Linked DNA regions of Homo sapiens: region 2 is linked to region 1. Evidence: fine-mapped expression QTL. A gene starts in region 1. The other region holds a variant in brackets. All regions are shown on one strand. Distances are from middle to middle. Region 1 holds the start of DNAH9 (dynein axonemal heavy chain 9). Region 2 overlaps DNAH9 (dynein axonemal heavy chain 9).

What was found. PIP is the estimated chance that this variant, and not a neighbour inherited with it, causes the effect.
Region 2: its variant is the best candidate, but not a certain one, in a credible set for the expression of DNAH9 in substantia nigra (GTEx, PIP 0.58).

Annotation. Positions count from the first base shown.
Region 1 is chr17:11,595,319-11,600,841 of GRCh38, reverse strand. It overlaps DNAH9 (dynein axonemal heavy chain 9), which reads right to left and starts at 2,372. Exons shown (of 69, transcript NM_001372.4): 1 at 1,927-2,372. The coding sequence starts at 2,343.
Region 2 is chr17:11,852,035-11,857,034 of GRCh38, reverse strand. It overlaps DNAH9 (dynein axonemal heavy chain 9), which reads right to left. Exons shown (of 69, transcript NM_001372.4): 50 at 2,607-3,032. Among named protein-coding and RNA genes, the nearest start is that of ZNF18, 140 kb to the left of the region's middle. The variant G/C (reference allele first, on the strand shown) is at 2,796.

The DNA.
Region 1 (5,523 bases):
GAATTTTACGTCATGTGTTTTTTTTGCCACAAGGAAAAAATTACCCTAAGGAATAACTCCGGTTGGACATGGTGGCTCACACCTGTAATCCCAGCACTTTGGGAGGCCAAGGCAGGAGGATCACTTGAGTCTAGGAGTTTGAAACCAGCCTGGTCAACATAGCAAGACCCTGCCTCAAAAAAAGGAATATTCCATATCAGTCATTCTTTTTAATAGTTGCAAAGTATTTCACTGTATAGATGGCCCATAATTCAGTCACCCAGTCCCCTGTTGATGAACATTGTTTGTCTCCAATCTCTTTCAATGCACCAATGAAAATTCTTAAACATTCGAGAATTTTCATTATTTTAAAATTATTTTTCTTGCTGGACTACTTTGCTTGGCCATGACACAACTCTGAGATGGGCCTTCTGTCTCCCACATACACTAGGTTAAATCCTGTCTCTGAACCTTTGATCAGTCTGCTCTCAGTATCTTGAAAGTTACCTTGCTCTCTACTTATACAAATTCTTCTAATTGTTCAGGAGACAATTCAACACTTATGTTAAGCATGCTTCTCAGATCACAGGCCTGTCTTTCTCCTCTGAAGCCAAAAGTACTTTCTATCGTCAACATTCATTAGAGAAGCTGATCTAAGTTCAGGCTTCAGCGGGATGGCTTTCAGACAATGCACAGTTGCAAGACCATTCTGTTTGTTAAAATATTGAAATACCTCCATATCTAAGAGATCTAGCTTCCTGGGCCCTCTGTGTCCTCCTCTATCTATCCAACCCTTTCCCTGGAATTTTCACCTCCCCACAGCCTCCTGATACACCATCTAAAGGGCTTACACTTGACATAGCAGGGAGACTCCAGGACTTGCATCCAGCAGTGGGGCCAACTTTTAGGTAAGCTTTACCCTCACCCCAGTCTTAAAAGTTTGAAACATTTTGAATATATGAATTATTACATACGTTTCAGCTCCTTGGAGTAAGCATTTCATGGGTGGGAATAGTTCTTTGGTATTCCCTATAGCACCTATCACCTGAACCATCATACAGCCAGTATTCTGCCCATCCTTATTTCACAACCTGCAGGGTCCAGGGCATCAAGCCTCCATAAGCACACAGCCTGACTTGCAGGGCAGTTTACTCCCATTCCAGAAAGGTCTAAGGGGCCCAGGAATCTCTCTGGAGCACTTCCCTGAAATCTCCTGCATTCTCGAAGCTTCTGCTGTGGTGCCACTAAAGCACTCATGACCCACATCTCCACCTTCCTCCCTGAGCTTCAGGCAGACTCCTCCAAAGGCCTGCTGGGCATTTCCAAATGGGAGCCCAACTTCTTATGCTGGCACAGGGCTGACCTTTGCTAAATGGTTGGTAATGAATGAATGAGATGAAAATCAAAAGCAAATCACTACCCACCTCCCCCTCCCATTTAACTGCTCTCCAGAAGTAGGCACTGTTTATAGCCATCCACCTCCTTCCACCCCACTGATCCATCAGAAATGCCGTCTTGTCCACTTCCCATCTTCTTCAGATCTTTCCAATTTACAGGAGGGATTACGAGAGGCTGATTTTGAAAGTAGTCAGAACCTAGGCACTCTTCAGATTATGGTCTTCCCCTGACTTTGGCTGGAACCCAGACCCGGACTGACCCAAGCCTCAGCTCCTTCCCATTCTCATTCTGGCCTGGCCTCCACCCAGATCCCTCCCTCCGGACCCACCCGACTCCGCCCCTAACCCCATCCCATTTTCTTCCTGACTTCAGGAACTTCCCTCCTGGTTGTGCTCCCTCCACAGCCTCGCCCCTCTGCCTATCACTCCGCCTCTTGGACCTCCCCTGCAGCTTCGCCCCGCCCCCTCTGGCCCCGCCTCCGTCCCTTAAGGCTCCTCCTCCCCTCCCCCACCCAGCTTTAGCCGCGCGGGGACACTAACCCACCCTCACCTCCGAGAACAGCGCGGCTAGGTGCTCCAGAGGTGCCGCGGGCAGGTCCCCGCAGACCACTGCGCCGCGGAAGCTGTCGGGCCCTGGAGGCTCGGGCCCGGTGCGAAGGAAAAAAAGCGCCTTAGCGCCAGCCAGGCCCGACTCAGGTCCCACCTCCAGCCCGGGGCGTATTGCCAGGCCCCTGGGCCCGGGCCGCACCACCAGCAGCGGCCGCGGCCCCTCGGCAGCATCGCGGCCCAGGAAGGCCTGGAGCAGCTGCTCCGCCTCAGCACTCCCCGCGCAACGCTCCCAGGCGCCCGCAGCCGGCCGCAGGCTCATGGCCACGTAGGTCCCCAGGAGTCGCAGTCGTCGGTCGGCGCCGGGTTCCCCATCCGCGTTCTCCGCCGCGAGCGCGGCCCGCTCCTCCGCGAGCCGCATCGCGCGCGGCCTCCAGCTGCATCGGTTTCCCTAGCGACGGGGACGCGGCCAGGACTCACTCCTCTGCTCCCTTCCTATTGGGCACGGACCCCTGGTCCCGCCCCTTCCAGGCTAATAAGGTAGGAGGTGTACGCGGGAAGGGGCGGGGTCGCGTCGCTGTTGCTAGGACACCAGCCGAGACTCGTACTCAGTGTCTGCCTGGTGTATTGGGAGTGCTGAAGTGTGACCGTGGAGCGCAATGGCTTATTGATGGGCTGCGTGGAGAGGAGATCAAGCATATAAATGCTGTTAAGGATCGTTTTGGCCAAGGTCGAATTAGAGTCTTTAGAGGTCTCCAGACACTGAAAATAGTGTGGTCCTCTTACCTCTATCCTAAATGTGCAATCCAGACTTAAACACAATGCCAAATCATAAAACAGATTTAAGGACATTCAGTGAATTTTATTTCTTTTCCATGATGGCAAATTAAACACTTCAGAACAGTGCTGTCCAGTAGAACTTTCTGCGATGATGGAAATGTTTTCCATCTGTTCTAGCCACGCATGGCCTATAAAGGAGGTGAAATATGCTCGTCCCACTGAGGAAATTTTTAATTTTACTTAATTTTCACTTAAAATTAAATAGTCACATGTGACTGTAGTTATATCGAACAGCTCAGCTTCAAAATTTTAATATCAAGTTTTTTTAAGTTTTCTTCCGTGCCTTTCTTTGCCCATGTTTTTTAAGGCATGTGCTTAATCTTCTAAAAATGTAACCAAACTGTAAGAGGCTTGTTTTTGAGACAGAGTCTTACTCTGTTGCCCAGACTGGAGTGCAGTGGCCGGATCATAGTTCACCGCAGCCTCAAATCCCTGGGCTCAACTGATCCTCTGGTCTCAGATTCCCTAGGAGCTGGGAATACAGGCGCCACCACATCCAGCTAATTTTAAAAATTTTTTGTAGAGATGAGGTCTCGCTGTGTTGTCCAAACTGGTCTTGAAGTCCTGGACTCAACTGATCCTTCTGCCTCAGCCTCCCAAAGTGCTGGGATTATAAGGATGAGCCACCATGCTAGAGTTTTTGACTTCCATGGGTATGACCACTAATCAGTTCTTACTAAATGTAGCAAAGTACTTGTAAATATGCAGGATGCTCAGAACCTTCCCATCCTGCCCTATACCTGGATATTGGCTTCAAAAAGGGATAATATAAAGTGCCTTGCCTGACCTCAGAAATTAGCATTTGTTACCTGCTTAGTCCTTCTCCATGGTCAGGATAAACAGCTTGGCCCTTTGCATGCATGTAAGGTGACAGTGCATGGGTGCTGAAAAAATGGACAAACAACTTGGGCAGCATGAGGTCTGCAGGACTGAATGAGCTCCCCTCTGCCCTGCCATCCTCCCTTTAGTCACCTCCCAGGGACTGCTGAGTTTCTGGGTAAAAGGAATGTTTATAATGGGTTTCAAAGGAATATTAACAGAATAAGCACTTATCAATGGTAGCTTGGCTAACAAGAGCCCCTCGGGAAAACACCAGTGGTTGGGAAGTAAAATGATTGATTTCATAATAACTGGAGCAAAGGAGTTGCTGTAATAAAAAATGTTCATGTTAGAAATGAATCTTTATGTTTGTAAAGGGTGTTTCATCATTGCTGGATTAAACAATAATCAACCAACTATGAGGAAAGGGAAAAAGTGGGAAACTAAAACAATCTTTAGGATGAATTTGGTAACTGACATTTCAAGAAGAAGCATCAGGGAAAAATAGTAATGTCAGGGGCTTCTTACACATATCGTTTTTTGTTTATCTTTGCACATAGGAAGGCATCGTTATTGTTTTAGTGCTTAGGGACTTCAAATGTGTCAACTATGCTCATGTTTCGTATACAGAGTGACTTCAGGACCATTAACTTTCAGTAAACCCTTGAAATAAAATTTCTGCCACCGCACTGTGGCTCTATTATGCCGTTAATCTCCTATGTCCCCTTGCCCCAACATACATAAAAATAGGAACAAAGGAGTCTGTGAATATGACTTAAAGATTTCTGTGTAAGGTGAAGGCTCCTGAATATTAGCAATCCCAGTTTTTAATTTTCTCTCCAAAAAGATACCTTATCTGCATTTTAGAAGGTGATTGGTGGGAGGCATTGATATGGGATTATTGAAAACAACTGACATTTTAAAATATTGTATAATTATGACAAAAATATCCCCAAAATATATTAGTTATCTATCACTGTATAACAAATTACCCCCAAACTTATCAGCTTAAAATAGCAATAGACATTTATCTCACACAGTTTATGGGGGGGTCAGGAATTTAGGAGCTGCTTAGCTCGTAGTTATTGCACAAGGTTTCTCATGATGTTGCAGGCAAGATGTCATCAGGGGCTACATCATCTGAAGGCTTGACTGGGGCTGGAGGAGACACTTCCAAGATGGCTTACTCACATGGCTAGTTGGTTAGTGCTGGCTCTTGGCAGTAGACTTCAACTTCTTAGCATGTGGAGCCCCCATTGGGTATCTGAGTGTCTTTGTAATGCTGTGACTGTCTTCCCCCGGAAGAAGTGATCTAAGAGAGAGCAAGGCAGAAGCCTACAGTGTCTCTTATGACTAGCCTTGGAAATCACACACTGTCATTTCTGCAATTATCTTATTAGTTACAGAAGTCTTCCCTATTCAATATGAGAGGGAATTACATGAGGATGTGAATACCAGGAGACAAGAATCACTGGGTACCATCTTGGAGGCAGGCTACCACAAAAAGTAAGGGAAAGAATGAATTTGCATAAGATGTTCAGCTAAAATAATTTCCATTTTTTAAATTGGAAACTTGAACTCAGTCCCATGAGCGTAATATTTGTAGTAATCATATTTTTTGTTTTAAATGACTATGCACAATTCCTGTTTGAGACTTTTGGTCATGATCTCTTTAAATTCTGGATAGTCGCTCGTGATGAGAAATTTGTTCCCACAAGCAAGTAATATGAAAGTTAAAGCCTTTCAAAACCATTCATAAATTAGCAGTTGACATTATATTTACAGAATCTAACAGCTCTTTCTTTTCTTCCTTGACAAATGTTACATTGAAAATCTTTTATGCTGCTAATAGATACTGAATCTAACCCAATCTTTTCATATCAAATATTTCAAAATAATGATGAAGTTCTAATTCAAATAATGTGCATGAATTATTAGAATA
Region 2 (5,000 bases), 260 kb before region 1:
CAGGAATATGGGCTGGACATGGTGGCTCATGCCTGTAGTCTGCTTGTAATCCTAGCTCTTTGGGAGGCCAAAGCAAAACGTTCACTTGAGGCCAAGAGTTCAAGACCAGCCTGGGCAACATAGCAAGACCCCTTCTCTAAAAATAAAAAATAAAAATAAATTCAGGAATGGGGATGTGACGGTGTCTTGCATGTGATGTTCTTTGAAGGGAGCAATTGTTATGGTGATTATCATCTATTTTAAGTAAACTAGTCCATGAACATGTGCATTATAAAACAAGCATATTGAGAGGAGGTGAGTTGCTTTGCCAAAGTTCTTTTTTTTTTTCTGAGACAGGGTCTCGCTGTGTTGCCCAGGCTGGAGTGCAGTGGCCTGATCTTGGCTTACTGCAAGCTCTGCCTCCCAGGTTCACTTCATTCTCCTGCCTCAGCCTCCTAAGTAGCTGGGACTACAGGTGGCCACCACCACGCCCGGCTAATTTTTTTTTTTTTGTATTTTTAGTAAAGACGGGGTTTCACCATGGTGGCCTGGATGGTCTCGATCTCCCGGCCTCATGATCCTCCTGCCTTGACCTCCCAAAGTGCTGGGATTACAGGCATGAGCCACTGCACCCGGCCCAAAGTATCTTTTTAAATAGAGAGATTGGTCTCAAGGATCTTTGATCTAGAGCCTTTTTCCATAGATTTTAATCTAACAATCAATAAACCCATGTCACGTGGCATACAGCATGTCTACAATCCTACCTTTCATAACTTGTAAAATCCTCCTTATCATCATGACAAATTTGTAGCAAGAATCTTATTTGCCTAGAATGCACATACAGAAATTAAAGATCCAGAAAATTTTTTGGATTGAACTTGATCACAGCCGTGATTGAGTCCATGCAAGAGGTTGGATGTGCATGTGGTAGATGGCACATGCTGTCAAATGGGGCAGTAGCAGTTGAGCAGTTATAGTCACGCTCACACAGTAGTGGTTGAGCAGTTATAGTCACACAGCAGGGGGGCAGCTCCTGCTGCTCCCTTCATCATGGGCTGGGCTCTAGTCTCATGCTTTATACACATCACATCCTTTAATTCTCATAATAGTCCCATGAAGCAGGTACTATTACTGTGTCTATTCTACTTCAGGAAGCTAAGGTTTGGGCATTTTGGAAACCTTTCTAAAGGTCACACGATCAGTAAATATTACAGCTTGGATTGGAACTAAGCTATGTGGAAGGATGGAGTCTTAGTTGCTATGCTATCTTCCAGGATTCTGATTTCTACCTGTTACTTTGTTAATATGCATTTTTATGGGCAAGGTGAAGTTCAAGCATATGAAAGTAAGTAATTCAAGATCTAAGCTGTTGGAACTTTAAAATATTTTGAGCCTTAAGGTAATGTGATTATAGGTCTCGAGTCACAGGACAGGCAGCTATAACCTAGGCAGTTGTAACCTTTATTTCTCTGATTATAGATTGGCCTTTTTCCTTACCTACATTGTCTTGTAAAACTTTGCAAATGACTAAAGGGCACCAGGGAAGACTCCTTCCAGCTTCATTGCTGATCTTTGTTATAGATTAACCTCTCTTTCACCTTTCTCACACAAAGACTCCACATTATCTAAGATGGAAGGTTAAATACACTCTTTGGAAAGGAAGTGAAACAAGCTGTACAGAAAACTGTAATTAATTAAATTGTTGTAACTCATAAACCAGCCTATTATAGAAAATTTCTTTGTTTTCTGCCTATATAAGTAACACCTTAACGTTTTACTTTGGAGCACTCACTCTATCTCTTTGGAGTTCATTGCCAGTTTTTCACTTAAATCAACTCTTGAAGCTGGATTCTGGGCTGGGCTCAGTGGCTCATACCTGTAATCCCAGCACTTTGGGAGGCTGAGGTGGGAGGATCACTTGAGCCCGGGAGTTCAAGACCAACCTGGGCAACATAGGGAGACCCTGCCTCTACAGATTAAAAAAAAAAATGAATTCTGATCCTTTCAATTATTTCAGGTTGACAAGGAAAATCTCCCAAATAGGTGTGAATCCAAGATCACCATCCCCATCTCCAAATCCTGGGTGAAGCAGACATAATAACAATATCTACATGAGTTTATAAAAGCTAATGACCCTCACAGTTTTATATTTATGGACTAGGGGCCACCCACTAAGTCACAGTGTATAACTTGCTTTAACGAACTTCCACAAAACAATGCAGATAGCTGACACATTTCCACACATCCATGCTACTGAAAGTGAGACAGGCAGATAGTTGGCTAGAACTGAAGGGAACAGGTAAAAAGGGTAAGGTGGCTAAAATCCACATTTCCAAGGAGAAAGAGAAAAAGTCTCAAAATTTTAACCTTTTGTTCAGAAAAGGAGAAAACCTTTTCGCACCACAGCTTGTAAACCAGTGGTCCAGTGGAATTGTCTTGTTTGGCCTATACAGTGTTTGAGAAAGAAATGTAAAAAGTTGCCTCTACTGAAAAATGAGATTTTGCATGAAAATGTGGTTTTCCTGCTTCTCTTTAAAAACCGTAACGTTAGGTGTTAGATGGTGTCTGAAGAGCGTTGTTTGTATTGGAGGCGGACTAGCAGGGTGAGGGGCTCTGGGGTCACTCACAGCGATCTTGGCTTTGATGGCAGCCAGCTTCTCCTGGGCAGCTGTGAGGTCCGCGGTGGCTTTGTTCAGTGCCTGGCGCTTGGGTTCCACATCACAGAACACCTCATAAAATCTCACAATATTGATGACCCAGGAGCAGAGGCCTGCAGCCGCATAGGATTTGGTGGCCACAAACTCAGGATTGAACTC[G/C]GGGTCTTGCAGATACGGCCTGATGGCTTTGAGGCAGTTCTCGTGAATGTTCTCTTTGTTGAAGTTTATTAGCGAGTCCAGGAAGCCATCCACTTTGGCCATGGTGACCTTAGCAGCCTTCCAGCTCCGGTCCTTGGGCACCCTACCCCTGGGAGCCATCAGTACCATCACCGCAGCGCTGACATTGCTGACGGCCAGAGGCGGAGAGCCAAATGACTTCAGCTCTGTCAGGTTGGTCTGGGAAAAGAGAAGGAGGTGGTTAGGGGAACATGAATGGGCTTTCTTTGTCCTCTGCCACTGATGGAGTTAGGTTGTGGAGCGATCGGTTTGAAAGGGCTGCTTTGAAGCCTGCAGCAGCCCTCTGAATTTTAAATATCATGACTCATCAAAAGGAAACCAAAGCTACTCCTCAGTGGCTTCAGACTTCTCTGAATGGTTAGCCAAGACTCAGCTATGTTCTTTCAGCACTTTAACTGACTCGCAGCCCATTAGAAACACACAATTATTTCACATTCAACTGAGAAATACAAGGATGCCGACATACTCTGAAATATGCAGCATGCTATGAATAAAAGATAAGGTTATTATAAATTAATTTCCATCTTGGATTGAAGAGAATAGCACTGTAACCCAAGTAATTTTTTTTTCCTTAATTAAACTGCTTTGTTCCATGAGCTTGTTCTAACTACACTTGACTGTCCTGATAGCAAAACAGCATTTTCTGCCAAGAAATAATTCAGACAGAAACAAGGCACAGCCTGTGAGTCAGCTGCTCTGCCTGGTCCTGGGTTTGTCCTTTGCTCAGAGTTTTGCTTGTTCCAGAAAGACACGGCTGAAAGAGTTGATCTTGGCAAATCACTTAAACCTTCCAGAACTTGCCACCTTCATCTGTAAATTGGGGGCAGGAGAACTCGCTACTCTGTACATAAAATGGTGTCATAAATGCGTATGAAGTTGATTTAAGGCCTGCTATGACATTCGGTGAGAAGCCTACAATCAGGTGTAGGGAATTCTAATTTTCTGTTGCTTGGGCATCCATTTTGAATATAGGTTTAACTTTATTCATACCAGAAGCAGGGCTCAGTTACCCTGGATACAGTTTCCAGTTCTATACCACACCCAAATGACTCAAGCCAGTAGCCAGAGAATTTGGATCTCTCCTAGGCAGGAGCTCCCTGCTTGCCTGCCACTTCCTTTAAAGGGACCATTCAGGCATTTGCTGAAAACCTAAAGTGACCCACATCCTACTTTCTTATATATACTTATATATTAACATAAGATATATCTTATATTAAATATGAGAAATATATTTCTTGTATATACTTTCTTTTATATATATATATACACATCCTACTTTCTTTTATATATACACACTTTCATATATATATATATATATATATATATATATATATATATATATATATACACACACACACACTTTCTTATATATATCTCTTATATATACTGCCGGTTGCCATGCACTTCTATGCACTTCTCTTTCTCTCTGCCTCACTCTTCATTCCTACCTGTCGTGACCCAGGGACAGAGCACTACCCTCCCAACTCATTGCATTCTCCCTGCTCAGGATCTGTAAGTAAAAATATTTGAATGTGTTTCCTGTTGTGGTGGTATACTGAATTTGCACCTTCCATCTGAAGAACCAGGGGCTGCTCCAGGCTGGGTTTTCTCCAGGTACTGGGCTGAGCTCCCAGCTCAGAGTGATGGTCAGGCAGGCATAAACTGGACATGGATTGGACAAGAGCCACAAGGGGATCCGCCAATATAAACAAATTTCCCATGTGAAGGACCCCCTGGTCATGGGTCAGACAGCTAAGCATTAGGCTGTCTGCCAGGTGAAAGAAATATCCGTGAAAGGTACATTGCAGACTCCCACGCCCAGCTCCCTACCACTTCCTATTAGGGCAGTGGAGCCCCAATGTAGCTGGAGGCTCTTAAAATGCTGTGAAACCATTTGCTTATGGCGCTAACTTTGTCAGTGGGGGGACAACTTGATTTCAAAAATTAGATTCTTATGCCAAATTAATTTGAGGTGCTCTTGATCCACAAACAAAGAGAATTATTTCTAGCTCCGAATGGAAGTACTGTGGCAGATGCTCCTTTCATTCTTGCAATGGATTTCACATTTGGTCCCAATACACCTGTGAGGGCAGGGAGGTAGGCAGCACAGGTGTGAGAGGGATACCA